Linked DNA regions of Homo sapiens. The protein of the gene in region 4 interacts with the protein of the main gene of each other region in a pairwise test. Each region holds a gene or a part of one and is shown on either strand. Other genes may lie near its edges. The genes, in order: FAM161A, TBRG4, RAD51B and FAM9B.

Region 1 (7,930 bases), on a different chromosome or scaffold from region 4:
GAGAAATAAGAACTATACCCTAAAGACTGCAGAGAAGAATAAAGAAACCCCAAACCTAGCTCTGAATGCATTACCAACAGTATATTCTGACTTCAGCAAATTAAATATATAAGACATTAAAAAGACATTAGTCAAAATTTGTGCCAGTAAGCCTTCATCTGACTTTGGTTTAAAATTCAATTTAACATCTTCTCAGTTAATTAATCCTGTGATTTCCAAGAAACAGGACAACATAGTTTATTCTGTAAAGAATCACAGGCATATTGTGTTAGGGAATCACTCAGCAGCAGCGAGACCACAATTAACTCCTATAAATGGGCAAAGCAAATAGCTGCAAGCAAATTTATTAAAAACCAGCTGTTAATTAGCAGCAATAGTTCCAGCAAAATAGACTGCAGCAAAAAATGTACTAAAAAAAAAAAGCAATGGCGATTCACTGCCATGGTAACTCTGTTTATACTTTTTGAGAAGTTAATGAGAAGACCCCTTGATATCATTCATTGAAAATGAGAATAAATGGAATTGGTGAGAATGGATGATTGTCCCTGTTATAAAGGCTTATTAATTGTCTACCCAGGGTTAACATTTTAGTAGGGGAATGAAAATGGTAAGGCGAAGGTATAATGAATGGTTCTGCAAAGAGCAAGGCAGAAAAATCAATCAAACTATTATGATTCAGATAGGAAATAAAGGTTCCACCTGGCATTTCACCACCAAGGATGGTGAAGGGCAGATCCAAAAATTATTTAGGAAGAAAATTTGACAGGTCTCTCAATGACCAGCTGAATGGGGAGGAACTGGGTACACACAGATATGAAGATGAGAACAGTAGGCCAGGCACGGTGGCTCACTCCTGTAATCCCAGTACTTTGGGAGGCCGAGGCAGGTGGATCACTTGAGGTCAGGAGTTCAGGACCAGCCCGGCCAACATGGTGAAATCCCGTCTCTACTAAAAATACAAAAAAAATTAGCCGGGCATGGTGGTGTGCACCTGTAATCCCAGCTACTCAGGAGACTGAGGCAGGAGAATCACTTGAACCCAGGAGGCAGAGGTTGCAGTGAGCCGAGATCACGCCACTGCACTCCAGCCTGGGTGACAGAGTAAGACCCTGTCTCAAAAAAAAAAAAAAAAAAAAATGAGAACAGTAGACACTGGTCTCAAACTCTTGGCCTCAAATGATCCTCCCCCCCTCAGTTTCCCAAAGTGTTGGGATTACAGGGTGAGTCACTGGCCTAATTTTTCTAATATAAAGATATTTCTGGCTGGATGTGGTGGTTCACATCTGTAATCCCGGAACTTTGAGAGGCTGAGGTGGGCAGATCACAAGGTCAGGAGTTCGAGACCAGCCTGACCAACATGATGAAACTTCGTCTTGACTAAAAATACAAAAAAAATTAGCCAGGCATGGTGGCACGCGCCTGTAATCACAGATACTCAGGAGGCTAAGGCAGGAGAATCACTTGAACCCGGGAGGCGGAGGTTCCAGTGAGCTGAGATCGAGCCACTGCACTCCAGCCTGGGTGACAGAGTGAGACGCCTTCTCAAAAAAAAAAAAAAAAAAAGATATTTCTTAGACAAACAGCACTATAATAAATCATTGCTGCATATGTGTTCAATATTGGTCTTCCCAAATAATACTTCATACTTTCTTTCTTGTATTATAGTATCACCCATAATGATTCCTTTAATTTAGCATTTATTTACTTTCCTTTTTTTTTTCTAGACCTGTTGGAACAAGCCTCGCATGTCACTAACACAAATATTAGTATTCCCAGGTTATGTACCTGCTCCCTGGAATTGAGGTTAACAGAAAAAAATAACATATCAATCTGACCATTCCCCCAACCTCCAAAACAATCATATTCACAATTTTGTCTCAACACACATCTGTAATTGCTGCAATTGTGTGTCTTGAATGACTACATTTGTCTGTCTTGTTTCTATCTGACTTTAAGGGTCTCAAGGGATTTTCTGATATTCAAAAAGCATTTGTTGAGAAGGGGGCAGGAAAACAATATGATAGATAAAAGAATCACATGAAGACAGTCAGATCTGGGTTTGAATCCTGGTTCCCCTTCTTCTGGTTGTATCATCTAAGCCTCAAGATGTCCCTCATCTGTGAAATAAGAACCTCACAGGAGCAGTGTAAAGGTCAGTTAAGACAATGCATATAAAGTGCTTAGTGGAGTGCTTGTCTTTCAGCAACCTCTCAAAAAACATTATAAACCAGCTTCCAAATAGCTTTGTGCAGTCTCCCTCTTAAATGCAAACAGACAACCAAAGATAATCTGAGGAAAGCTTCTAATATGATAGACAAGAGGCTAAAAAAGAGAAAAAGGAACTTGAAGGAAACAGAGACAATATCACCAGTATGCTCAGAGATATAAAAGACAGGCTGGGTGTGGTGGCTCACACTTGGAATCCCGACACTTTGGAAGGCCGAGAAAGGAGGATTTCTTGAGCCCAGGAGCTTAAGACCAGCATGGACAACACAGTAACACCCCTGTCTTTACAAAAAATACAAAAATTAGCCTGGCATGGTAGCTTGTGCCTGTAGTCCTAACTACTTGGGAGGCTGAGGTGGGAAGATTGCCTGAGCCCAAGGGGTTAAAGTTGCAGTGAGCCGAGATCATGCCACTGCACTCCAGCCTGGGACAGAGTAAGACCCTGTCACACACACACAAAAAAAAACCAACAACAACAACAACAAAAAACCAACAACAACAAAAAAAAACGTACTGCACCCATGAAAAATACCAAAGGAATATTTAATAAATGGGAAGCATTCTGGAAATTATGTCATTTTTCATTAGGTAAGCAAAAAATGCAGATTTGGAAGATAAATTTGAGGAAATCTTCCAGAACTAGAATAAAATAACAGTGATTTTAAAAGAAATACAAGAAATGTAGATAAATCCAGGTTAATATCTAACTACTCCCCAGTATAACAGTGAAAAAGTCCTAAGATGTCGTTTATGCCAGAGGCCTAGAGCAGGGGTCCCTACCACGAACTAGGTACGGGTCTGTGGCCTGTTAGGAACCAGGCTGCACAGCAGGAAGTGAGCAGTGGGAGGGCGAGCATTATGGCCTGAGCCCTGCCTCCTACAGCGTTAGATTTTCATAGGAGGGTGACCCCTATCGTGAAGTGCTCATGCCAGGGATCTAGGTTGCATGCTCCTTATGAGAATCTAACGCCTGATGATGTGAGGTGGAACAGTTTCATCCTGAAATGATCCATTTCCCGATCCATCCACCCCACCCCACGCAACCCTGGTCTGTGGAAAAATGGTCTTCCATAAAACCAGTCTCTAGCGCCAAAAAGGTTGAGGACTGCTGGCCTAGAGAGAAACCATTCCAAAGTGGAGCAGGACACTTGTGGGCTCCAGGGGAGGAAAGGAACTGATGAATTACGAATGTGTTTAACTGTTTGAGGGGGATTTTTGAGAGCTAACAGAAAAGCCTAAGAATAATAATGATACATACATTGGTGGGGAATGAGGGAAGGTGGGGGGAGGACCAAACAAAATTAGTAATTATTAACACAAGAAAAAATTTTTTTAAAGGAAATGTGATGGGCCAGGCATGGTGGTTCACGCCTGTAATCCCAGCACTTTGGGAGGCCAATGCAGACGGATCATCAGGTCAGGAGTTCGAGACCAGCCTGACCAACATGGTGAAACCTCGTCTCTACTAAAAAATACAAAAAAATTAGCTAGGCACGGTGGCGCGCACCTGTAATCCCAGCTACTCAGGAGGCTGAGGCAGGAGAATGGCTTGAACCCAGGAGGCAGAGGTTGCAGTGAGCTGAGATTGTGACACTGTACTCCAGCCTGGGTGACAGAGTGAGACTCTGTCTCAAAAAAAAAAAAAAAAAGGAAATGTGATGATAATAATATAGGGCTCAGCTGCTAACATTGTTTACTAAGTTATAACACTGAATTCCGATCTAACTGTGATAGAGCTGACTGGGAAACAGAAAGATGGAAAGACGTTGAAAGGGTAGGTAAGTGTGCTTCCGAGAGGACGTGTTAAAACAGCTAAATCCTCACCTACCATATCAATAAGCTAGTAGATAGAGTCTGTAATGAAAAAGATAAAAGAACAGTTGAAAGAATGTTACTGAATAATAAAATACCACTTTGTACCCACTAGGAAGACTATAACAAAAAGACAGACAAAAGCTAGGTGCAGTGGCTCATGCCTGTAATCCCATCAACTTGGGAGGTGGAGGTGGGAGGATCACTTGAGGCCAGGAGTTCACGACCAGCCTGGGCCATACAGCGAGACCCAGTCTCTACAAAAAATAAAATTAGCTGGGCATGATGGTGTGGGCCTTTGTCTCAGCTACTTGGGATGCTCATACTGGGGATCATCTGAGCCCAGGAGTTCAAGGTTCCAGTGAGCTATGATTGTACTACTGCACTGGCCTGGGCAACAGAGTGAAACCCTGTCTCTAAAAATATTTTTCTAAAAAAATCAGACAGACAATAACAAGTGCTGATGCTATTCACAACAGCAAAGACATGGTAACAACCCAGCCCATCAGCAGTGGATTGGATACAGAAAATATGTTACACATACACCATGGAATACTACACAGCCATAAAAAAGAATGAAATCATGTCCTTTGCAACAATATGGATACAGCTGGAAGCCATTATCCTAAGCAAACTAAAGCAGAAACGGAAAACCAAACATCATATGTTCTCACTTACAAGTGGGAACTAAACACTGGGTACACATGGAAATAAAGATGAGAACAACAGACACTGGAGAATATAAGAGGGAGAGTGGAGGGAGGAGGGCAAGGGTTGAAAACCTACCTATTGGGTACTATGCTCATTACCTGGGTGATGAGTTCAATCATACCCCAAACCCCAGCTCACACAATATACCCTTTTTTTTTTTTTTGAGATAGAATTTTGGTCTTGTTGCTCAGGCTGGAGTGCAATGACGCAATCTCAGCTCACTACAACCTCCGCCTCCCAAGTTCAAGCAATTCTCCTGCCTCAGCCTCCCAAGTAGTTGGGACTACAGGCACGCAAAACCATGCCCGGCTAATTTTTGTATTTTTAGTAGAGACAAGGTTTCACCATGTTGGCCAGGCTGGTCTCGAACCACTGACCTTAGGTGATCCACCTGCTTCGGCCTCCCAAAATGCTGGCTGGGATTACAGGTGTGAGCCACGGCGCCTGGCATACCCTTGTAACAAACCTGCGCATATACTCCTTGAATTTAAAATAAAAGTTGAAAAAATAAATAAATAAATAAATAAGAAAAACCCAGAAGCAGTGTAAAGAGCAAAAACAAAAAACTTGCAGTTCAGAGCTGGAGATAATGTCTTTGAGCCAAAAGCCAATCACTTTATGATTATAATGTAGAACAGCTTAAAATGATTTTTCCCCCTAAAGTTGAAATAAAGATGTTAAAAAAATCCATCACTTAAAATGAAAGGCATTATATAAAATTATATCTAGATCAGTGAGCAAAAAGATTACGTAACTTTGAGAGACTGTAATGTGCAGATTCACCCACAATACATGTCCACTGTCCTCAATGAGTCACTGGCAAGTACAGTTCTGTAACTATGCTCATCTGTTACAGGTAAATTCTCCAACTGTCTATTGTCCAATTATAACAGCTTCAAATTCACAATTTAGAACCTGTAACCTCCAGTGATTTTGTCAATTGTTAAGCCATGTCACCCATACAGATGCCTCCCCTATGGGACAAAGGAGAAGATGACCTAAAATTGACAAATTTCCCTTAAGGGAAAGGTTGTAAAACCGGGCATAAACTTAGTAAAATCAGGGTCCACTGTCCGTAAGACTAGTTTGTTTTTCGTATAGAAAGGAAGTTCTTTTAGTAATTGCAGAGAAGATTGAATTACAGACTCACTTAAAAAAAAAAACTAGCAGAAATAACTCTGATTCAATTAGCCATTTTGTTTCATTTTTTTAATTCTTCAAAGACCTCCAAGTGATATCATGAAGCCTCATCTTAATATCTAACCAAGTTTGTACTGAAAAAAGACCAGCCATTAGAAAACAGCTTGCAAAATTATTTTACGAACTACTGGATTGGCATGTTATTTATCAAACTTATGTGCTTCATCAAAAAGATTCAATGTTCAGATTATTTTTTTGAGATGAGGTCTTGCTACGTTGCACAGGTTGGACCAAAACTCTTGGGCTCAAGCAATCTGCCCACCTCAGCCTCCCAAGTAGCTGGGACTACAGGTGCACACCACCACACCTGGCTAAATGCTCGGATTTAAGCAAAATTACTCATTGGCTGATATGATGAAGCCAACACAAACAACAATAATGTATCTCAACAGTTATATAACACATAAGAAAAATGGACTGTAAATTTAGGAGCTAAAGCTGTAAAAAAAAAAAAAAAAACTGACGATAGCTCTTAAATTCCAATAAACACAACCTGAGCAACTCTTTCAAATAGCAGTGGCCTCTTTTTTAATTTTTCTTCTCTTTCTTCTAGTTCTCGTTGGTATTCTCTCATCCTTTCCTTTTCGCTCTTTCTAAAATTAAAGAAAAGCAATGGAATTTTAAAAGATCATCTAAGAAATAAGAACTTACATATGTAACATTTAACTTATCAACTTGTACAAAGTCAATGAAAAAAAAGAAATAACATTTAGCTTAGCTGACAAATCAGAAATTATAAGCACAGTTCACAGTTTACCTCGATTCCTCTTCTATACCGGTTAATTCTCATGGAATGCAGAATAAAATCCTAGGTTCTGAGATCACACATATTATGCTCTAGGAATAGTCTGGACACTTTAATTTCTGAAATCCTCAAGGCATAAATATTTTAAGGGACTTCAAACTGCCCTGAAAAGATGAATGAAAGTCCTCTTGTCTCATTTATAAGTGTATAAAACCAAGAAAATTTTGGAACAAATTAGCTATCTTCTCTGTAAGGAATTTCTCCTGAAAACAAGACTTTGCTCTTATTTTTTATTATTATTTTATTGTTGTTGTTATTTACTTTTGTTTTGAGATGGAGTCTCATTCTGTTGCTCAGGCTGGTGCGGTGGCACAATCTCAGCTCACTGCAACTTCTACCTCCTGGGTTCATGCAATTCTCGTGCCTCAGCTTCCCGAATAGCTGAGATTACAGGTGTGCACCACCATGCCTGGCTAATTTTCTGTATTTTTAGTAGAGATGAGGGTTTCACCATGTTGGCCAGGCTGGTCTTGAACTCCTGACCTCAGGTGATCTGCCTGTCTTGGCCTCTCAAAGTGCTGGGATTACAGGCATGAGCCATTGCGCCTGGCCTATTAATTTTGAGACAGGTTCTCACTTTGTTGTCCAGGCTGGAGTGCAGTGGTGCAATCATGGCTGACTGCAGCTTTGACTTCCTGGGCTCAAATGATCCTCCCACCTTAGCTCTCGAGTAGGTGGAACTACAGGGGCATGCCACCACACCTGGCTAATTTTTTTAAATTTTTTGTAGAGATGGGGGTCTCATTATGTTTACCAGGCTGGTCTCAAACTCCTGGGCTCAAGCAATCTTCCTGCCTTGTACTCCTGAGGTGTTGGGATTACAGATGTGAGCCATGGCATCCAGCCTTTGCTGTTATTTTTTTCCCCTAAATAAGATCTCCTACAGGTTAGTGGCAAAGTTAATTCAATGGGAGCAAGTCAAAGGAGAAGTAAAGAGCATGGGAATACAACATAAAGAGAAACAGGAACCAAAATATATAAATTTACCGTAAGTGTTCTCACTGTTTGAGCAAGATCCTATAATAAATTAAACTACACTATTTTCTCTATGTAAGATATAATTGCTACCAAGATAAATAAGATTAATGGATTGGGGAAAATAATTATACTTTTAAATGATAATTAGGCTTAATTATACACAAGTTGGTGTTATGAAAAAGCTATTGTCCAGGCACG
Region 2 (7,930 bases), on a different chromosome or scaffold from region 4:
TTCCCAGGGAAGGTGACCACCTTTGATCTTAACCAAGGTCTCCCAGGTGTGAAACCAGAGTCAGGCCCAAGACCTGCATCTTTCTGCTCCTGCCAGTTCCACTGGTCCTACTTTTCCTGACAACAGGCGCTGACCAAGGGGGCAGAGCAGCTGCACTCAGAGCCCCAACAGCTGTGCAGCCTCTTGGGCTTCAAGCTGCTCATCTGTGAATGGGCCCTACCCTGCCCACCTCTTAAGCTGAATAAGCAGGCTTGGTTGCCTTTTTGGGTTCACCCACGGGGTGAGATGCTGGGAAGGTTAGAGGGGAGGCTGGAGCAGCTAGGATCCACAGTAAACTCCCTCCCTGGGCTCCTGGGAGAGGCCCGGGGCCACGGGCAGGGCATGTGTCTATACCTGCTGGCTCAGTTCCACCTGATCCCCTCTCTAGCGTGGGTTGGGGATTCTCCCTGTGCAGTGACCACCTGCCCAAGAGGTACTCACGTCCACTATCAGGAAGCCTGCAGCCACTATGTGTCGCCGGGCCAGAACAAAGCGACCCAGCAAGTCCTTGCTTCGGCTGTTGAAGTTGGGGAACTCCCACCGCAAGAACGCTAGCCTGGAAGGAAGAAGAGGTGGCTGACATGCTTCCACTCTCCCAGCCCCTCGGAGGGGAAAGATGGAAAGCAAAGAATATGCAGTCCAACAGCCATGGTGCCCCCATGGCCAACAGGTCCCTGGCCACCTACCTCTTAGACCCTGGAGGTGGTGACTGGCTCCCAGTTGGCTGGGCAAGGTGAGGTGCCACAAAGTCCCTTACGGGCAGAAACTCGCCGTCACTGTCCAGCAGCACCTCAGCATCTGGGGAAGGGGTGTGGGATGAGAACATGTTGGGGGACATCCCTCAGAAACCCCCCCACAGGAAAGATGAACAAAGATGGGACTGTGGGGAGCCCAGGCTGACACCCTGCAGCTCCCTAGGTCAGTACTTGCTGCAGACGGGGTGGGTTAGAAGAGTCCCGTTAGACTCAGGCAATGCCAGGCCCTGTGCCAACCAGGGGGAGCCCTCACCCAGCACCCAGCCATACTGCGTGGCCACCTCGAGGCTGCCCTTGTCGGCGCTCCCCAGCAGCCCCTTCAGCGTCTCCTGCAGCTCCTTTTGCAGGGGGGTCACCTTCCTGTCAAGGGCTGAGGGCCCAGGGGCCACAGCCGAGGCAGGCAGAAGGGGACCCGAGTACTCGGGGTACTCCAGCAGGGCAGTGGCGTTGATGTGGAGCAGCTTCTGGAAGGTGTTCTGATCCTTCTGAGACTTGCCCCCTAGGAGACAAGGAGAAAGAAGAGGGAGGTGGGCCTACGGCCAGAGATGGGGAGACCCTGATGAGAGGGCAGTGCACCCCTACACCCAGTCCCAGCCCAGTTTTCTGGGTCAGGAGGCAGCAGAGTTACGGTCTGCTGGCCACCTACAGGGAGAGGATGGAGAGCGAGGGGGAGGGAGAGCCCTGGCCTCCATCTGCCCCAAATTCTCACCTGGCACTAGGCAGACAAGACCAGGCAGTTTCCCAGTTCCAGTAGTACTAGGGGCAGGGGGCTCACCTAGAAATTGGATGTGAAATTCAGGGTGGAGGACGGCTTGCAGCTCTGCTTCCCGTGCCTGCTGCAGCACACACAGGGCCCACACCAGGTCCACCTGCAGGGCTGGCTCCAGGCCTGGCAGCTCTGACCCCAGCTTCTCATGTACCTGGGCAAGGATAGAGTGTGGTGGAGAAAGCAGGCTCTCCTTAGGGGCTGCAAATAGCCATGGGTGAGACACAATCCATGATGTGGTCTTGGCCTGGTTGGGATGAGGCCAGAGGAGGCTACTAGGTAACAAGAGGCAGAACCCTGGCCCTTGGTGAGGCCTGGAGCAATCCTGGGCTTGAAGGTACCAGGAATCTTCCTCATGCCCCAAGACCACTCTGAACAGCAGAAGAGTGCTGCTGAATGCTGGCATTTGATTAGGTTTACTACAACCAACCTACTGGCAGGGAACAAGATCCCTTCTCCCATAATGTCTCCAAGTGAGCACCTGGGACAAGGAAGGAGGAATCTCTGGTCCTCTGAGAGATGAGAGCATCCAAGAGGTGAAGCAGCACTCCCCAGCCCCTGGCTAATTGTTCTCAGGACTGTGCCAGACAAACCCCTGATGGAATCCCAGGGAGCCTGGGATCACACCTGGCCTGCTGGCCTCTGTGGCTGTCCTAAGGTCTTCATAAAGAAGGCTCCCCCTCCTGCCCTGAGCTGGTGCACATAGCACGAAGGCCCACTGGAGCTTCTGAGCATCAACAGGGCATTAAAAGGAGCACCAGAGGCAGGACCCCCCAGCGCTGCCTGGCAGGGCAGTCAACCAGACAGCAGGATTTCATGTGTTCTCAGTAATCCCTAGGATGCCTGGCTCCAATCAGTTCCCCCTGCCCTCCCATGCCACACATAGTGGCCCCTCCCGCCTCCACCTAGCCCGAGCTGATCTTGGGAGGACGGTTCATGAGCCATTAGCTGAAGGGGAGGATAAAGGTCGAGCAGTGGGAGCCCAGAGGCCCTACCAGGCTGAAGAACTGATCCTCTTGGTCTGGATGGAAGTTCAGACGCGCAAAAGCCAGAAGTACGCTGCACAGGTGGGGCAGGGTGATGTCCTGCGCTCTGTTCAGGACGTGCTGGGTGGGTCAGAAATAGCAGAGGGACAGAATAAGCTCTCTGCCCAGCACGCTGTCCTCCTGCCTGGCTCTGAGTCTGAGGAGAGCCTGCATGGCCAGGGGCAATGGCAGGACCCTCCATCCAGGGCCCATGAGCTGTGTCGGGAACAGAGAAGGACTTACACAGGCCCAGACACTCCTTCGCCTGGCAGCAACTACCCACAGAGGCTGGGGACACCTAGAAGCTGCTTCTTTCTGATAAGGGATTTAGAAATATTCTCCAACCAGTAAACTTAGTTTAGACTGGTCACACATAAACGTAACTGCAGGTGTCATCTTTCTGTACAGTTCCACTTTGCGAGGGGGATCAGTGATTCAGTAGACAGTTCTCAGTGGATTCTCAGTCTCATCAGCCATGCTGCTACCTGCTACAGCTACCCCAAAATGGATGGAAGCACTTATAATGGTCAGTGAAAGAACAGAGGAAACAGTTCTCAAACACTTTTTTGAGAACTGAATAGCAGCCCTTTCAAAATAAGCCAAAATGCAAGAAATATGTATTTGCCCCCACAAGTGAGCATTTTCAGACTGGCTTTACTTTCCCGACTAAGGCAATGGTTCCCAGCAGATGGCCAGGAAGCCAGCTTCTCTGAGTTGGGGCCAGGCCCTGGCTCACCTGGGCAAAGGCCTCAAACAGGGGCAGGCTGAGCCACTTGAGTAAGGCGAAGGACTTGGCACAGTGGGCCACCTCACCAGAAGTCAGGCTGGGCATGAGGGATAGCAGGTCGGTGGCCAGGCGCTGGGACACCTGGGTCTGGTGAAAGCTGAGTTTGCCTTCAGGACAGAGCAGATCACAGGGTTTAGCTGGAGAGAGTCAGCAATCACCCAGCAGCTCCACCCCACCTCAGCCTCGAGGTCTAGATATTTGATGTCTGTAACCAAATTTATCCCTGAGCCTGGGACACAGGAACAGGGCCCATGAGTCACAGTGTTTCTGTGGCAGCCTTCTGGGCCAGTGCCTACCATGCATAGGACAGGTACTGAATTTGACACGGCTGCAGGCATCTGCAGGGCCAGCGCTCCCCTCTCTCCACCGTTCTGTCCAAAGGGCTCACCATAGGCATAGGCCACGTCCAAGAGCACATCTTTCGTCAGAGAGAAGGGCTTCTGCACCAGGTGGTAGGAGATGGCCCGCAGCAAGGGCACGGACCGCCGGCTCTGAGCTGCCAGCATCACCAGCACCTTCCGCAGCTCATTGGGGCCAAAGTGCTCCACCAACTCCAGGCACTGTCAACCACAGCCGCGCAGAGGTCAGCTCAATGGCCTGGGGTGGCAGAGATGAGCTGGGGGCAGGGGTCCCATGGTCCCATCCAGTGCAGCCCCTGTGACAGCCCCTGTCAGACTGGGCCTGAGCTGACTAAACACAGGACCACTGTGCAGGGCCTGCCTCCTCATCCACCCCAGGGAACCCCTGGACCTGGAGCACTGTCCACAGCCAAACTTATCCCCAGGTCCCAGGGTAGGTGACCCAGGGCCCATGAGCTGTGGAGCTTGCTGTGGCAGCCATCTGGGCCAGCCCCCGCTATGACAGAAACGGGCACTGAATTTGACTTGACTGCAGGGCTACAGCCGATAGGGGTTAGCACATCTCCAGGAGAGTTCTAGCCAGAAGCCAGGCCTGGGCAGTAGCTGTGTTACTTCAGGAGCTGCCTGCCATGCCCCCCTCTCAAGATCGTGCTGTGATGGGGTTTGGGGGAAAGATAAAGGTGCAATCAGGGAAGCGCCTGTGTTGGGAGGAGCAAGTGGTGCTTGATGAATGCAGCCACAGGGCAACCACCTGTTGCAGCTCCGAGCCCTCTGGTCCTGCCCCATGTGATGCCTGAGGCTCCAGACAGAAGCTCCCAGGGCTCTGATCCCAGTGCACACAACGCACCCCTCTGCAGACAACTGTCACCCAAAGAACAAGCCCAAAGCCCAGGGGAGGCAGGCTGGGTGCCACCTGCTTTCAGGCCCAGTACCTTGTCTTCCAGGCGGTTCATTAGTGGCTCCGAGAGGTGTCCCACCTTCATCATGACGGTCACTAATGTGTGGGAATCTTCAATTTCTGTCCAACGCCTTTCCAGGTGTGTGAGCAGCTCAGCCAGCAGCTCCTGCGAGTGCTGCTCCTGTGAGAGGGTGGCACAGGACTCTGCCAGGAAGGCCAGGTGCTTGTACTTGAGCTTCCGCATGCGCCAGCGGACCTCCTGCTCCACCGACTGCAGCTCCTTGGAGGCCTTGGGGATGCCCAGAGCATACAGGCTTCCCAGCAGCTTCGAGAGGGTACCATGCCAGACCGAGGCAATCTAGGCAGAGAAAGGACACAGGAGAAATGATGTGGCACTGTCAGTCCTGTGTGTGAGCTGGAGGCTACCTCTCTGAACCTTGTTTCATGAGCATTTACTACAACTCTTCAGAGAAGACAGTATCAGTTCCCCACTCCATTGTAACAGGGCCCCAGTGCCTGGCTGCTCCTCACAGCCTTGCTCAGCCTCGAGGCCTAGACGCTTGGTGTCTGTAACCAAATTTATCCCTGAGCCTGGGACACAGTAACAGGGCCTGTGAGTCACTGTTTCTGTGGCAGTCTTCTGGGCCAGTGCCTACCATAGACAGGGCAGGCACTGAATTTGACATGGCTGCCAAGCACCTGCAGAGCCAGAGCACCCCTCAGGCACAGGCCAGATCCAAGGGTACACCTCTGAGCCTGATCCTCTAGGCTACAATAAATAGCACATTTCTGCTCAAGGTGGCTGAGGTCATTTGCAATTGCTTGCAAGCAAGAACTCTAGAGTGGCAAGGGAAATTCTCCAAGTTTCCCCAATGAAGTTTTGACCTAATGTAGTTGATTAAAGAGAGACCACACTCTTTTACATGGTCCTGGCTACAGCTCTGGGTAGTGGGCACGTAGACTTCAGCTGCAAGTAAAGCTGTCAAATCAATACAAGAGGTCAGAGAAAAAGTTGAGCCTGATGGATGTCACCTGATGGCAGAGAAGGTGGCACTTACGCTTGCTAAGATCAGTTTTGTTATCATTCGTGACTTTTACTTGCAACGACATTAAAAGTTTTAGGTATTAAAAACTTGGGCCAGGCAGATCACCTGAGGTCAGGAGTTCGAGACTAGCCTGGTGAACGTGGTGAAACCCTGTGCCTATTAAAATTACAAAAATTAGCCAGGTGTGGTGGCACATGCCTGTAGTCCCACCTACTTGGGAGGCTGAGGTGGGAAGATCACTTGAACCTGGAAGGTGGAGGCTGCAGTGAGCTGAGATTGTGCCACTGCACTCCAGCCTGGGTGACAGAGTGAGACTCTGTCTCAAACAACAAAACAAAACACACTGGCTTTTCTCCAGGAAAATAATTTGTTTTTGAGTCAGAGAAGCTCCAACCCCTAAACTGTTCTCTAACAAACCAATCTCGCAGTTTCTGGCAACGTGAAAGTTTCTTAGGAATGCAACTGCTGCAATAAGCAGGAGTCCCTGCAGTGCGTTAGGCAGTGAACCACCACCTTTACCCTCCAGGGACGCGGCACCCAAGCATGCCAGACCCTCAACTGCCTGCAAAGGGAGGAGCACCCCAGGCACAAAGGTTTGCAGGAACGCTTTTGACATATGGGTAAAAAGACCCCCGGTATCACTAAGCCCTGCCCACTCCCAAATGCAGAGGCCTCCTAGGGATGACCAAGCTGCTGCTGCTACCAGCAGCACCTCTGAACAGGCTCTTACTAAATGCCAGGCATCCTTCTGTGTGCGTACCCCCATGAGACACCAACATCCTATGAGAACCATCAGTCCCACTATACAGGTAAACGAAGGTGAACTTATTTCTACATAGTTCTGGGTCCGGAACCTGCACCACAGCCCGTCCTCTCTGCTGGTGCCTGCTTTGTTTCTGAAGAGGGTAACTGCTATTCAGGTACTGTGTCCACAGGGCCCACAGTGTCAACATGGGTGGCTCTAGAGCCCTTTGGCCCTGAATCCAGCCTTGCAGAAGAGAGCAGATGGTAAAACAAGTATGGCTCTGTCCTTTCCTGGGCCAAGTCTCTCAACACTGAACCCTCAGGTTCAGTCTCTGCGCTTATGAATGAGAAGCAGAAACCACACCTTCAAGGAAGTGAGCTGCGAACAGAGAAGCTGCTGTCTGAAGGGCTGGGGAGGAGGGAGAAAGTACTGGAGTAAATTCTAATCTTACAGAAGATCTGGGTGTCTACCTTCCGGTTTCATGGACAGCAGGAAAATCTTTGAAAAGAAAGCTGTTATTACATTACAGATACTTGCCTTATAATTTTGTTACAATGTTCAGTCTTGCATCATAAGACTTTCTTAAATCACATGTGAGTAAAAAGAGTCAATAAACAGCAATTAGAATTGTAGCCAAATAACAAGGGGGCCTAACTAAGTTCATTTTATGAATTATATCCCCAGCAAGAAATAATTATGTACTGTAACCCCAGTCCACACAACACAGGCATATATATACATCCTTAACTAGAACAAAAGTTCCATGAGACATTAGTGAATCCCCTTACTATATGTGATGAATTCTGGTATTTTTTATACTACTCTACCTCATTAAGAATCAGCTGGCCACATCCCACTACACTGATTTTATAACCTGCAGTTTGAAAAGCACTCAGTTAGTGCAACTCCTTCCTTGGATAGTGCCTTTCTCTTCATTACACCTGACAACTGGAAACATGGTTTCAGTGCCCCAGCACTTCCCTTCCAAAGCAGACCAGGGATTTAGGGCCAGTTCAGCCACAGCAGGAGTCTGTACTCCTTTTTTTGTACATGGAGCCCAGGGGAAGACTCTCTAAGAAGGGAGTCCCTCACAGTGAGCAGGAACTGGCTTCTGTAGTCTGAGTTCTGCCCTGCTCAGTGCCACACAAATGGGTCTTGTTGCTTCTCTCCATGGTCATCCTTGGAGGGTCTGAACATGGCTAGATCATGCCCACGTCTGTCTCAAGTTTCAAGGACCTTCCATCAGTCATGCTGCATCTCCTTTGGCTTCAAAAACAGTGCCTTGCCATCAGCCAGACACTGGCAGAGAGCAATACAAGTCAAGACTATATGGTGAGGGGGAAAGCACCCAAAGAACTGAGAAGAACCAGGCTCACTTCCCATGCTTCTATCACTATGCGTCTTGGCTGTCTGTAAGACGAGCATAGCAATATTTACCTAACAGGCCTCTTGTAAGGATAAACAAAGAGAAAGCACGATAAAGCACTTTGAAATTTATAAAAAAATAAAA
Region 3 (5,745 bases), on a different chromosome or scaffold from region 4:
CAGTTTGAATCAGTAACCTATCAAAATGTTTTATGCTGCTGGACTCAAAGTGACCCAGAAGATTCTCAATTTATTTCCATCCAGGTACAGAGGTATCTGCATGGTAAATACCACCTCCGCACCTGGCACAGCCTGGCATTCTTGTAGGAGCCTGGGCAAAGAGCCCTGGAACTCAATGGAGCAAAGAGAGTGAACTCCTCTCCCAGAGGTCATGGAGAAGAAGGCAAAGCAGGCCTGTCACATTGTCCCCAGCCTGCCAGGTGCCACTGCAGCCTCGGAAAGTTTGTCTAGGCCAAGGCGCTCTCCTTTGCTGCTTCTGCCTGCCTCTTAGTGTGGGACCTCCCAGGGAGATGAGAAAGGAGAGGAAGGACTCGTATCTGTTCAGTTCTCTTCTCCCCTGTGCACATTCACTTTACATCCCCTCCCTCCATGACATCTTCTCACACAGGCTCTCTGCTTTGTTTACTTTTTTTTTCTGGCAATCAGCCTTGAAGAGAGATTTTACAATATTTGGAAATATTTTATAATATATGAAAAAAAATTTTAAATACAGAACAGTACAGAAAATCATAAAAGAAAACAGGTGAATCTAACACCCCAAATAAATACTAAAATTTTGTCCCATTTGTTTCAGATTTTTTTTTTATTTACAGGAATGAAACTTGACAAACTTTAGGACTCCTTTGTACCTATTCCTGGTCCATTCCCTCCTTATCCCACATTCCTCCACAAAAGTGGAAACTCTCCAGAGTTTGGTCTACATCTTTCCTCTCCATTCTTAAAAACTTTTCTACATATATGTGAATCCACACATAGTATAATGATTGATTTTGAGTGCATTCTGAAATTTGCATAAATGATTTATTGTACACGATTTCACAACTTGCTTTTGTTGCTTAACACTGTTTTTGTAATATAGCCATGTGATACACAGGTCACATGATACACAGGCCACGTGATACACAGGTCACATTCTTTCACCTTAGATATCCACATCCATTCAGTGTGTGAATGTACCACATGCTACCCACTCCCCTACTTATGGAAATTTTGATTATTTGTAACAATTTTATTACCTGTGCTTCTTGATGTTTAGGTATGAGAGTTTCACTAGGTATATATAAAAAATGGAATGGCTGGTCAGAGTGTCTACACGTTTCCATTTACTATATCTTCCCAAATTGCTCTCCAAAGACTTTTACCAATTTATACTCGTTCTGGAGATAGTAGACCAATTTCTCTGCAGCCTCGTATAATCGTTAAGTTTGTTGTCATCTTTCCATAGGCAGTCTTCTCATGCCTTCTTTAGGGATGCACTGCACTCTAGCCTGAGTGACAGAGCAAAACCCCATCTCTCTCTATCTTAAAAAAATTCTTCATTTCCCTAAAGTTAACTATATAATAGTTCCCAGAAAGTGAGCTTTTAATCTCATCCATCACCCTGATTCTCACTTGAGGAAACTGAGTTCCAGAAAGGTAAAGTAATGTTCACTGCCTCAAAATTGGGTTTGTAGCCATTTCTAAGCCCTCAGCCTGGGCTCCTAAGATTTTAGAAAATCCGAAGTGGGTTTGGGCCCTCTCATCTTCCATCAGGGAAGCCCCTGTGACAACTTACCTCTCAGGCTTCATGAGCCTCTGTTGAGATACTTCAGGCCTGTCCTGAAATTTGAATCTGGAAATTCTAAGCTAAAATGGATTGGTCATACTGATACAATAATCCTTCAACGAAGTCCCTGAGTGCAGTTAGATTATAAGTTTGGCCAGGTGTAACTATAACCTAAACTAACAGTGGTATACATGATAGAGATGTACTGCTTCCTCCTGTAGTGCCGAGGAGGAATGCAGTCCAGAGCTGGTTTGGCAGCTTAGCTCTACATGTCTATCGAAGAGCCCAGGCCATTGACTTTTTGCTCTGTCACACCTAGGATGTTGCCGTTACCATGGTCCAGAATGGTTCAGCATCATGCCCTCCATCCCAGTAGCAGGATGTGCATGAGATAGAGAATGGTGGTGGGAGAGAAAGCATCCCCCATCCCTTAAGGACATTAACCAGAAGTTATACACATTATTTCTGTTTATATGATGTTGGCCAGTCTGTAAATATATGATCAGAAAGGCTAAAAATATAGTCATTAATCTGGGTGGCCATATACCCAGCTAAATTTCGGGATTTCTGTTATCATGAGAAAAGAAAATGAATATTCGGTGACACAGCCCTTTCTGAAGAGCCCAGTTGCAGAGATTAGGTGCAATAGTACAGACGTAAGGGCTGGGCTTGTTGCATAATAGAGTTATACTCTTAAAATGCAGCATAAATATTGTATGTATTGAAAAGTGCCATCAGGACCCTCTTTGGTTCCAGACTCTAAAGTAGAAGAGAAAGGGTATCACTTCACCAAGGATCAGCACCCAAAAATCTTGTTCTGCCCACCCAAAACAGAATCTCCTTCAGGAAGGAACTTTAGTATGTGTTTTGCTTTTATGCAGTATCCAGGAAAGAAACTTCAATGAGAGCTACTATTGCTTATAGCACAAGGCAGGGCATGAACTTGGGTCCAAAGTCATAGACCAAACACTTTTTTTTTTCCAAAATGTTTTTTCCTACCTCCACTTTTAAAAAAAAAATGAAACAAAATATCAGTTGAAATAACATTATTGAGAAAAACTTTATTCCAAGGCCTGGACTATAGTTAGACTGGATTTACATTTCTCTTTTAGAACCTGGAAGCCACTTGGCTATCTTTGCAGAGTTAACAATTTGCATTTGCAAAAATGGCCAGGTAACAGTACCAAAATATGTTAAATCAATTCAGGTTGTTGATTTTCTTTGAAAGTCTCTTCCAAAGAACTTCATGTTCTTTCTGGAATATGATTTAAGCTGCATTTCAGTGAGTTCAGTTCAGCAAATATTTGTTGAGCATCTATTGTTCACAAAGCATGGTGCTCAGGGGTCAAGAGATATAAGGCTGAAAAAAAAAAAAAAAAGGTCCCTTCCTTTTAGTAGCCCAGAATCTAGTTAGGAGAGATGTAGTTAAATAAGTTTAATCAAAAGCCAACTGTGATACCTATTACCAAGGTTCAAACAGTGGAATATAGAAGGATAAAGGGAATAGACTTATTCCAAGTAGGATGACTGAGGTAGGTTCTTGAGAGTACGTGGGACTTGGACTGGATTTCAGCTTGTGAATACTGACAAAAACCGCATTCCATTGTCTCTTGACAGAAGCCAATTTCTTTTGCTATTTGAGGATAGATTCAGGGACACTGGGGAATGCTGATTAGTTCCATCACTAATGCTGATTAGTAGTGAATGTTGAGTCATGCTGACTAATGTGTTCTAAATGGATTGACTCAACAATAAAGGCAACGTTGAGAGTCAAGAGTTCAGATCCTGAATTTCACCGATGAAGTGTAAATCATTTCGCCACTTAGTGCTTAATTTTTTTGTCAATTAAAATGTGCTCGTGGGTGAGAATCCAGTAAGTCATCTTGACCCATGAGGGCTTTACAAACTTCAAGGATAACAGACAGCTTAACAGCAACTACCAGGACAGGCTTATGCAACCTCAGGTTATTCATAGCTCACACAGAGTCAGAACACCCATCACATGCTGCTCGCCAGCCATGCGAAACTTCTGTTTCCTCACACATGCCATGAGAACTGACAAACAGTGCACTGAACTCACAAAACCCGACAAATAGAGGAGCTTTTGAAAAATCTTCCTATCTACCTACTGGGGTGTCTGTGTCTTTCTACAACAAATGTCGCCACAGAACTAAGGGCTTGCATTGCAGACACAGCTCTTTCTCTCTTTTGACATCTCCCCAGCTAGACTGCTTGAGAACCTGGCCTTCCATGTCCAGATGTTTACTGAATTCTGAAGCCCTCCCAGAGAGCCCAGGTTCTTTTGTTGCTCTCCAAATCATTTCCCACAGAGGCTGACCAGTGTCCTGAAGGAGCCCTTCAATAGGGAGGATAAATGAAGGCAGATGAAGACATGACCCCCTGAGGCTTGCCCACATCCACTGGAACAAAGGGTGTGAGGCACAACCTTGTAAGGAGTGTTTTGGTCAGCCGCGTCCCTATGCGAGGCCAAGTCTCCCCCACAGGGCTGCTTTCAATGGCTACCATCATAGTGGAAGTATTGGGCATTTGTTAAGGACTGTGGTGTGCTAGATATAGCACAAAACATCTAAATCATGGTCCCCTGCCTTTGTGAGGGCTTCCTGGCTACAGATGGCAGCTGGCTTTCTCAGGGGAAACTTGGGGGTCATAGAGAAAGCTGAAGAGGGGTGCTTGCTTCTGTGGATGACCTCTTCCCACCCAGTGCAGCGACACTCCCCTTTTGTCTATAGCTATCCTTAGTCAAGCCAGGGCTGCGGGACCCTAACCCACACTTCCGCTGTGTTTCTGGATCTCTGGTTTGCAAGGCCAGTGGCTCTGTGGGCAATACGTATGAAAGAGGACTGCTGTTGGAGGAAAGTTCCATTTAGGTTGCTGGTGGGAAGTTAGTGCATTTCATAACAATTTTTTTTTTTCAAACTTTCTCTTTTTTTTTTTTTTCCTTTAGGCCAAGAGAAGCCATAGGGATACTGTGACCTTTGTCTAGAGTTGATGGGGGTGTGATTTGTGAAATAAAACAGGACCGTACTGCTTGGAAGAAGGAAACGGAAGCTGACATAATGGGGATTAATTAGTTGATTGCTGTTGAGATGGTAACAGATTTGCTCCTAAACCATTGAGCTAGCGATTTCAGACCTAGCAGGGAAGGTGAAGATGAAGAAGCCTTTGTTCAGGTCTCTAGATGTGTAGGGCTGAGGGCTTTGCCGCCATGGGATGTCAACAGCCATAATAATAATTTGCACTTATATAGCACCTTTCAACCAGGCACCTCAAAGCGGTTTAACCACATTAATTAATTAAAGCCCACAATCCTCCTGGGGAGAGGAGGAGGATGACTAACAAGATTTGTAATTACAGGAGGGAACATTTCCGAATAAAGTATTGTCTACCAGATAAAAAGAGTAGGTGTAAAGGAATTGGGGTCTCCAAATAGTAACCGATTCAGAAATGAAATCATGGAATGATGTGGGAGGCTGGGGGCGGGCATGGGCAAGGGGGTCGACTCTGTGTCAGAGGGAGGTCGATGGGCTCAGAATTCACTGACAGGTTCAGATCCAGCCGAGAAGTGGAGCATGTATGGTATTAGTGGCATTTGAAGGTCATTAGTGGCATAACTATTGTAGTGTAAATTCAAGTTTTATTGGTATATTGTGTATAGCCCTGCAGAACAAAGACTGAGACTCATGCAGTATTTAATAAAGGATGAAATGATTTCTTTAGATTTAAAGCCCAAAGCTGGGCCAGTCAATTAGCAAATAAATCAATTGGTGACCCGTAGGATAATTTAGTCGTTTCCAGTAGAACACCCAGCCTACACACTCCTACTGCCATGAGGCTCTGATTGAAGCATCAGACTGGGTTCAGGGCAAGGTCTGGGGGCTTTAGCCCCTTCAAAGCCAGGCATTAAATCTTTCCAGCCTTTGGCCTTGTGACCTATCTTACCCAGGTTGTTAGTGACCTCAAGCTGTCCTCTGTAGAATCACTTTGTACCTGCTCCTCCATCAGAGATTTTTAGTGCATTGAGGGCTAGAATCAAGTCTCATCCTATTTCATGTCTCCTATGAGTGCCCAACAGAGTGCTGTGCACCAAGTAGGTGCAGATTGATGAAGATTGATGAAGA
Region 4 (7,854 bases):
ATAACTTAATGCACAATAAGAAAAGCATTTTTAAGCAATCTAGTGATTGATGCTATTAACTGTATTTTAATAAAAGAAGCAATGGCCATGAGTATAAAAATTTAGGTTTAGGTAAAGAAATACATTCAAAAACACTTTTGAAATGTTTTCTTGGAGCTTTTTATGACATTTGTACCCATAGTGCTGTGTTTCAGAAAACTGTAATACTGCAAGGAATGCTTTCCTAAACATGATTTCACATCAGAGCTCTACCATCAATTGCTAAGAATAATTTTCAGCAATCATAAAAGATTTGTACCACAATGCAAATATTTTTTACATACAGTCTCCATCTATAATGCCCAATGTATTAGGCAGCTCACAAAACCAGCACTTTGTCACCAAGCTTTCCAAATATACTGCTTGTATGAATCATCGCTAGAGAAGAGCTGAAAACTGAATTGAGCTTTTTAAAAATAAGAGTATTGTCTCCATCATCTCTACAGAAATTTTCTCAAACTTTTTTGAAAATATGGTCCTATAAGAGTGTAACTAATATTTCACACAGCAATATAAAGTTTATGAGTTTTTGGAGCCAATTACATGTTTCTCACTAGGTAGAAAAGTTGTCCTTACTTTTCTACTACACAGTTTATTACTGGAATAATAATAGAAAATGATTTTAGAAAATTCAATTTTCTCTTGTACTTTAAAGAAAACAAAATCAGAAAGCTGTGACAATAGAACAGCTAAATTAGGAACATGAAAAACTCATATTAAAAACTCTGAGTACAGACGGACAGGAAGAGAGGAACAACAGACAACTGGGCCTACTTGAGGGTGGAGGGTAGGAGGAGGGTGAGGATCAAAGACCACCCATCAGGTACTATGCTTATAAACTGGGTGACAAAATAATCTGTATACCAAAACCCTGTGACATGCAATTTATCTACATAACAAACCTCCACATGTACCCCCAAACTTAAAGTAAAAGCTAAAAAAAACCATTGATATATGACTTAATCTGTGTATACTAAAAGGAACGAATAGAGCTGTTTCTCCTCCACTGTCCTCTAATATCCTCCAAACAATTAAATTTCCACATGTATGAAAGAAAAGCCATCCATCTCGCTTCACCATTATTAGAAGCATTCTCACATTCCACATCAACAATCAAAAAGGTAAGAAAAATTTATCAAATAGATTACATTAAATACGTACGTTAAATGCTACATATGAGAAGCCATTTAAGACAGTCTTGTCGTCCACTAATTCATATAACCTACTGCAACAGTTGTATGACTGAAAACAATTTTCATAAACTACAGATAACTCCTAAAACATACCTGCAGTATCTTCTGGCTTCTTGGTATTAGCCCTGTAAAAAAAGTTACATCAAAATTTTAACAAAATACTACACAAAATGCCATGTTTGTTGGGAAAAGAAATGTCTTATGTGAAATGTTCTGCATAGAATAGAACAGTGATGACATGGTCCAAAGCTGACTTTTCCTAAAAGACCCTATCCGACAGGCAAAAGTGACTTAAACACTTTACCCCGTGTGTTCATCTGTTTCAGCAAAAGGTTCTCTTTCCCCATGCTCATCAGTTACATCTTCCTCCCTTGTTTCTGTAAAACGGTTTCTTTCCTCACATTCATCACGGACTGGATCCTTTCCTGCATTAAAATGTAAAAGACAAACCTTTTTTAGAGGAAGATGCTGCTGTGGACATTTTTTGTGGAGAAATGTACTAGTTGTAGACTTTTTTGGGGGGGGGGGGCTCTCTGCCAATTAAAGCTTTAAAGCAGAGCTATACATGGAATCACCGGTTCCTGACCATTTTATCGAGGGACTTTTGGAAGCCCTTCGGGTTCAGGTTCCAGTAAACAACGTACTACAGTTCAGACCCCTTGGATGTCAGGACTGCACCCATGGAGAAGAGCTGCTCTGAGAGCATCTGTAACCCTGCTATGAGGGGGAGCCTTCCACGGGGAAGCCTAAGGCCCTTGAGCCTGCTTTGAAAACCTGGCGCATCTTAGCACGTGCACAATGGACTCCAGAGCCACGAAGGGGCCTGGGGCCTCGGGCTGCCCCTGTGCCCCCAGCGCAGAAAGCAGACAGACCGTCCTCTTGGGCGTGCACCTTCTTCTGGGTCCCCTTGGGCTGTATTTACCTGCATGCTTCTTCCCCCAGGCCGCCATAAATTGAGCCTCCAACTGGGCCTTGGCAGCCCTCCTGCCCACAGGATCCGTGGCTGGTTGTCCTGGGAAGCTAGAGGCGATCCCCGAACCTGGTGAGCGCAAAGACACACTAAGGAAGCTAAGGAAACCTGGCATCGGAAAGGAAAGCCATTGGGATCACAGGTTCAAGAAGGGTGGGGCTGGCCCGCCCTGGGTCTCATGTGGGAGCAGGAAGGGACGGAAAAGATGCCAGTGTCCCCTCCTGTCCTGGCCCGTCCAGCCCGTCCCCGGGGCTGGCTGCAAAGCTCACAGCTGCCCCTCACACCTGAACTCCACGGCCTCTGCGGGATCCTCGCCGCCCTTTTGGGACAGAACTCAGCCCTACCTCTGAGTCACCTAGCGACCCCATGTGGCTGGGAGGGCCGCTGGGTGACACAGGATCTCCCCAGCCACCTCTAGGGGAATGTCAGGGGCTGCACTGCCACTCGCCCCCCTGGACGCACAGGGGACCCCCGGTGACCCCCGGTGACCCCAAGTGTCCTGTCCTGTCGGGCGGCCAGGCAGGAGGGCCCCACTCAGACTGTCCCCCACAACACCCCCGCCTCACTCCCACTTCTCCCCCCCTCGGCCCCTCCCCCCAACACATGCACAAGCCCCCAGGACCCTCCCGGGCCCTAGGGATCACCCAGGCAGCTCCAGCTCCCTCCCTGCCCTGGCCCACCCCAGCCCACCCTAGCCCACCCTCAGGGCCTCGCCCTGACCCAGGCCCCAGGCGACGACGCTGGGGCCATTTCCTCACAGGTCGGCGGGCTGCCCAGCGCTTCACACCCTGGTTCCCAGAGGGCCTCGTGCCTGCGTTCCCGCCTCCCCACCACGAGTGCTTCACCTGAGGGACCCCTGATGTGGCGCCCTCAAAGAACCTGCAGGCAGCGGCACCACTAGGACCTCTTAGAAAACGGGTCCTCTCAGGAAGCTGAGGCAGGAGAATTGCTTGAACCCAGGAGGCGGAGGTTGCAGTGAGCCCAGATCACACCACTGCACTGCAGCCTAGGCAGCAAGAGCCAGACTCCGTCCCAAAAAAAACAAAACAAAAAAACAAAAAAAAAGAAAAGTAAAGAAAACGGGTCCTCAGTTCTCGTGAGAGCTGCAGGCAGGACTTCCTGCGCTCCTCGCTGATTGGTCGGCTCAGTGCACATGCGTGTGACGGGCTGTGTGGGGCCAGGCCCCCTGCTGGCACGCCCTCACCCTTCCCCTAAGTGACAGCCCGTGGTTGCTGTGGACTGGGGTGGGGGTGGCCCTTTGGGGCCTCTGTCCCCACAATCTTTCAGCTTCTCCTCCTGGGGAGAGACACAAGGACTTGGGATGGAGGCCAAGTGGACAGGGCCTAGAACCTCGCCCTGGGGCTTGTTCCAGCCACCCCTGCCCCTTTGGCTAGAATGGCCATCACCCTGTGGGTGGAGCCCAGGCTCCCTCCCATGCCCTGTGTGCTTCCAACATGCCCAGCTGCGTCCTTTTTAATCAATGGATTGTGCTTTTATCGTTTGTGTTTGTTGGTTTTTGAGACTGAGTCTCACTCTATTGCCCAGGCTGGAGTGCAGTGGCAAGATCTCAGCTCACTGCAATCTCCCCTTCCCAGGTTCCAGCGATTCTCCTGCCTCAGCCTCCCGAGGAGCTGGGATTACAGGAGCCCAACACCACGCCCTGTTGTTGTTGTTGTTGTTGTTGTTGTTGTTGTTGTTGTTGTTATTATTATTATTGCATATTCGGTAGAGACAGGGTTTCACCATGTTGTCCAGGCTGGTCTCGAACTCCTGACCTCAGTTGATCCGCATGCCTTGGCCTCCCAAAGTGCTGGGATTACAGGCGTGAGCCACCGTGCCCAGCCCATAACCTTTTTTGTTTCCTCACTACTTTTCTTTCTCATCCTCATGCCCCAGACTTGCCCACAAACCTTCATACTCCAGACTTATCCAGACATATGCCACAACCTTCACCCACAAATTAATGCCTTAATACTTATCGTTAACTCAGCTTTTTCCCACCTCCGATCCCCTGTAATAGGGAGAGAGTTGTTTCGGAGTTGGGAGTGAATAAATATTGCCTAAAGTTTGTAAATCAAGATACAGAGTTTCATTATACTATTGAAATTATAAAGGCAGTCATCAGGAAAACTAATCCACAGCCTTAAATGCCTATATAACCAAAAAGAGCACACACAAAGCATACAAATCCTGTAGTAAAAGTTGGAAAATAAAGAAAATACTACAGAGACCATAACATAACATAAAAGAACAGAATTAAGGCCAAGTGAATCTGTTGAGCAAGAAATATGAATGAGATAAACTCGCATTCTAAAGGAAATGACTTCCAACTTGGATCAAAATAAAAACCTAAGTATATGCTGTATGTAAGAATGGAATTAAACAAAATGATACAAAAAGTACATATCAGAAAAATATGAAGAAAAGGAAAATATGGATCTGAGAATTGATATCTCATGAATGTAAAATAATGCAAAAAATAAATGAATAAACTAAAGGCAGAGTACACTGAACAAGAGAAGGGCACAATCTACTCTGACAATCTCACATGAATCATTTTGTGCTTAACACAGCATCAATGTGCCTAAACCCAAAACCGTAGAAAATAAAAGCAAAACAATCAATGAAAATGAACAGTGATATGAGAGTTTAAGCTCCGTCTGTCCAGGAGAGACCAAATACAAATGTATTGTCTTGGATACAGGCATAGTATCTTAAATTGCTCTCTTGGCAGTAGAGTGAGCATTTTCTTTCACTTTCAACCAATGAACCCTCACCACATCCTATAGTACTTCCTTGGCCACTACTATCTTCTATTCTACCTACAGTTTCCCAAAAGATTAAAAAATTAGAAAGACTTCATTCTCAGCAAACTATCGCAAGGACAAAAAACCAAACACCGCATGTTCTCACTCATAGCTGGGAATTGAACAATGAGAACACATGGACACAGGAAGGGGAACATCACACTCCGCGGACTGTTGTGGGGTGGGGGGAGAGGGGAGGGATAGCATTAGGAAATATACCTAATGCTAAATGACGAGTTAATGGGTGCAGCACACCAACATGGCACATGTATACATATGTAACAAACCTGCACGTTGTGCACATGTACCCTAAAACTTAAAGTATAATAATAATAAAATTTAAAAAAAATTAGAAAGACTTACATTAGCAAATAGGAGAAAAGTTTTCTTGTTGTTGTTGTGTGTGTACACACCTGCATGTAAATGTGTGTGTGTGTGTGTGTGTGATGTTTGTTGTTTGTTTTTTTGAAATGGAGCTTTGCTCTTGTTGCCCAGGCTGGAGTGCAGTGGCGGGATCTCGGCTCACTGCAACCTCTGCTTCCCGAGTTCAAGCGATTCTCCTGCTTCAGCCTCCAGAGTAGCTGGGATTACAGACGCCCGCCACCAAGCCTGGCTAATTTTGTATTTTCAGTAGAGACGGGGTTTCACCATGTTGGCCAGGCTGGTCTCGAACTGCTGACCTCAAGTGATCTGTCTGCCTCGGCCTGCCAAAGTGCTGGGATTACAGGCATGAACCACTGCGCCTGGCCTGGTTTTTTGTTTGTTTGTTTGTTTAATATGAGAGCCAGCACTAAATGATCTTCAAAGTATCTTCAAAACTTAAATGTTCACATGATATATTTTTCACATTCAGTGTGAGTAAAGCATGGAAGGTAATGTTCCATTCTGGTGCATTAAAGCATAATGGTGTTGTATTTGAGAAGAGAGAAAGGGAGCTGTGGTCTGGAAACTGTTGCCCAGAGCACTGGAAAAACCACCTTAGAGCTGTTTCAGGCTGTTTTAAGTTCCAGATCATTTTGAATTCCTGCCCTAGAAGCTATGCACACTCAGAGAATGAGTTCAGTCTTGACCCATGATATTGTACTGAATACCTCAGCTACTTTTCTACAGATTAAATAACATAAACTCCTTTTACTTTTCTTCACAGTTCTTAAAATGAAACTTTAACAATGTCTCCTTGAAGGCGTTAAGAGTGCTTCAAAATTCTATCTTTCTTTCGTATTGTCTTTTCTTGTTGTTAGTTTGTTTGGTTTTGGTATAAAGGGAGCCTAAATCTGGTTGCAGTTAGTAGGAATCTGAGAAGGCTAAGTTCAAAATCTCAGAAAGATTTTCTTTATATTTTCTATGTTTTATATTCCTTTCATAAATTCTGATATGAATACTTTCCCAGTAAGAATATTTGTATCATGCTTTAACATTTCATTTATCTTTGTGTGCGAATTAGCATTTGTTTTATTAAAACAATCTAAATGTATTAAGGAATTAGATTATAGGGAAATTAAATTAAAACATAATTTAAAAGAAATTATTATATCCAGATACTGAAAAACAGAGGTATAAAGATGTTGTGACCGGGTCCAGGAGGAAGGGGGTCAGGGAAAATGATGTACCAGACTAATGAGTGGCTTGGACACTGTATTAGTCCATTCTCAAATTGCTATAAAGAACCAAGACTGGGTAATTTATGAAGACAAGAGGTTTAGCTGACTCACGGTTCCACAGGCTGTACAGCAAGCATGGCTGGGGAGGCCCCGGGAAACTTACAATTATGGTGGAAGGTGAAGGGGAAGCAGGCAACATCTTCACATGGCGGAGCAGGAGTAAGAGAGTGAAGGGGAAGGTGCTACACACTTTTAAACAACCAGATTTCATGAGAACTCACTCACTATCACGAAAACAGCAAGGGGGAAGTCTGACCCCAGGATCCAATCACCTCCCACCAGGCCCCTCCTCCAGCATGAGGATTACAATTTGACATGAGACTTAGGTGGGGAAACAGAGCCAAACCATATCAGACACAAAGTTGAGCTCTTCATAAAGCACAAATGTTCCAAACCGGAACAAAGGTAGGTTAGCATTTTCCAAATGCCAACCTCCAAAGACCTCCAGATTAGGACCTCAAACACGTTTCAAGTTTGTCACATGGCTCTCCTTTTACTTGACTGCTCTCCAGGAAAACCAAACTTTACCCCACATGCCTCTGATATTATTAATGTTCCTTCCTAGGCAGACAAATCCTATCAGAATTTCAAACCTACCCTAAATGTTTCCTCTTTAATGTAGCCATTCACCCAGTGCTTTTAAATATGTGAGACACTCTTTCTTTTTGCAACCCATTTAGAGCTTTTATCTGTCGTGGGAAATTTGCCTTATATTGCAGTTATCTGGGAAGTCATATTCCCCATTAAACTACATCTGAAGGTCCAGAACAGTTTCCAAGGTATCCGTATAATATGGAGCACTCAATGTACACTGACCATATTGAATCCAACAAAATTGAAATTAATGTAGCTTTTTATCTTTAAAACAGAAAAATAATAACGAAAAAGCCACAACTCACAGAGTACTTGAACTTGCATCATTCTGCTAAGTGGCATTTTTATGAGTCCTAAATGCTCTGCACTATGCTAATGAAAGACAAGGTTGCAAATAATTGCCTGGGCCTCCCAGAGAGACGTTGGTACAGCATTCTGGCCTGCTAGTTTAAAAAAAAAAAAACTTTTTTCTCGGCCTAGAAAAACAGGTTCCTGATTTGTATAGTAGAGGCTAGCTCCTTTCTAAATTATGTGCAGACAACACTGGTCTGTATATTTGAAGTGAATTAGTGTCTTTATGTAATCCCTGA

What was found.
Region 1: the proteins of FAM9B (region 4) and FAM161A interact in binary tests that used the Homo sapiens proteins (3 or more experiments, as listed by UniProt).
Region 2: the proteins of FAM9B (region 4) and TBRG4 interact in binary tests that used the Homo sapiens proteins (3 or more experiments, as listed by UniProt).
Region 3: the proteins of FAM9B (region 4) and RAD51B interact in binary tests that used the Homo sapiens proteins (3 or more experiments, as listed by UniProt).

What each region holds. Positions count from the first base shown.
Region 1 is NC_000002.12:61,829,568-61,837,497, forward strand, and holds part of FAM161A (protein FAM161A), read right to left. Parts: intron 6,543-7,930; coding exon 6,443-6,542; intron 1-6,442. UniProt on the Homo sapiens protein: Involved in ciliogenesis.
Region 2 is NC_000007.14:45,100,778-45,108,707, forward strand, and holds part of TBRG4 (FAST kinase domain-containing protein 4), read right to left. Parts: intron 5,323-7,930; exon of another isoform or gene 5,191-5,322; intron 4,988-5,190; coding exon 4,664-4,987; intron 4,266-4,663; exon of another isoform or gene 4,129-4,265; intron 3,933-4,128; coding exon 3,761-3,932; intron 3,706-3,760; exon of another isoform or gene 3,572-3,705; intron 3,480-3,571; coding exon 3,322-3,479; intron 2,667-3,321; coding exon 2,556-2,666; intron 1,715-2,555; coding exon 1,570-1,714; intron 1,294-1,569; coding exon 1,048-1,293; intron 838-1,047; coding exon 726-837; intron 596-725; coding exon 481-595; intron 1-480. UniProt on the Homo sapiens protein: Plays a role in processing of mitochondrial RNA precursors and in stabilization of a subset of mature mitochondrial RNA species, such as MT-CO1, MT-CO2, MT-CYB, MT-CO3, MT-ND3, MT-ND5 and MT-ATP8/6. May play a role in cell cycle progression.
Region 3 is NC_000014.9:68,473,077-68,478,821, forward strand, and holds the end of RAD51B (DNA repair protein RAD51 homolog 2), read left to right. Parts: intron 1-4,571; coding exon 4,572-4,588; 3' UTR 4,589-5,017; downstream 5,018-5,745. UniProt on the Homo sapiens protein: Involved in the homologous recombination repair (HRR) pathway of double-stranded DNA breaks arising during DNA replication or induced by DNA-damaging agents. May promote the assembly of presynaptic RAD51 nucleoprotein filaments.
Region 4 is NC_000023.11:9,030,805-9,038,658, forward strand, and holds the start of FAM9B (protein FAM9B), read right to left. Parts: upstream 3,324-7,854; 5' UTR 3,048-3,323; intron 2,480-3,047; exon of another isoform or gene 2,318-2,479; coding exon of another isoform or gene 2,183-2,317; coding exon 2,155-2,182; intron 1,658-2,154; coding exon 1,537-1,657; intron 1,358-1,536; coding exon 1,326-1,357; intron 1-1,325. UniProt on the Homo sapiens protein: May play a role in meiosis.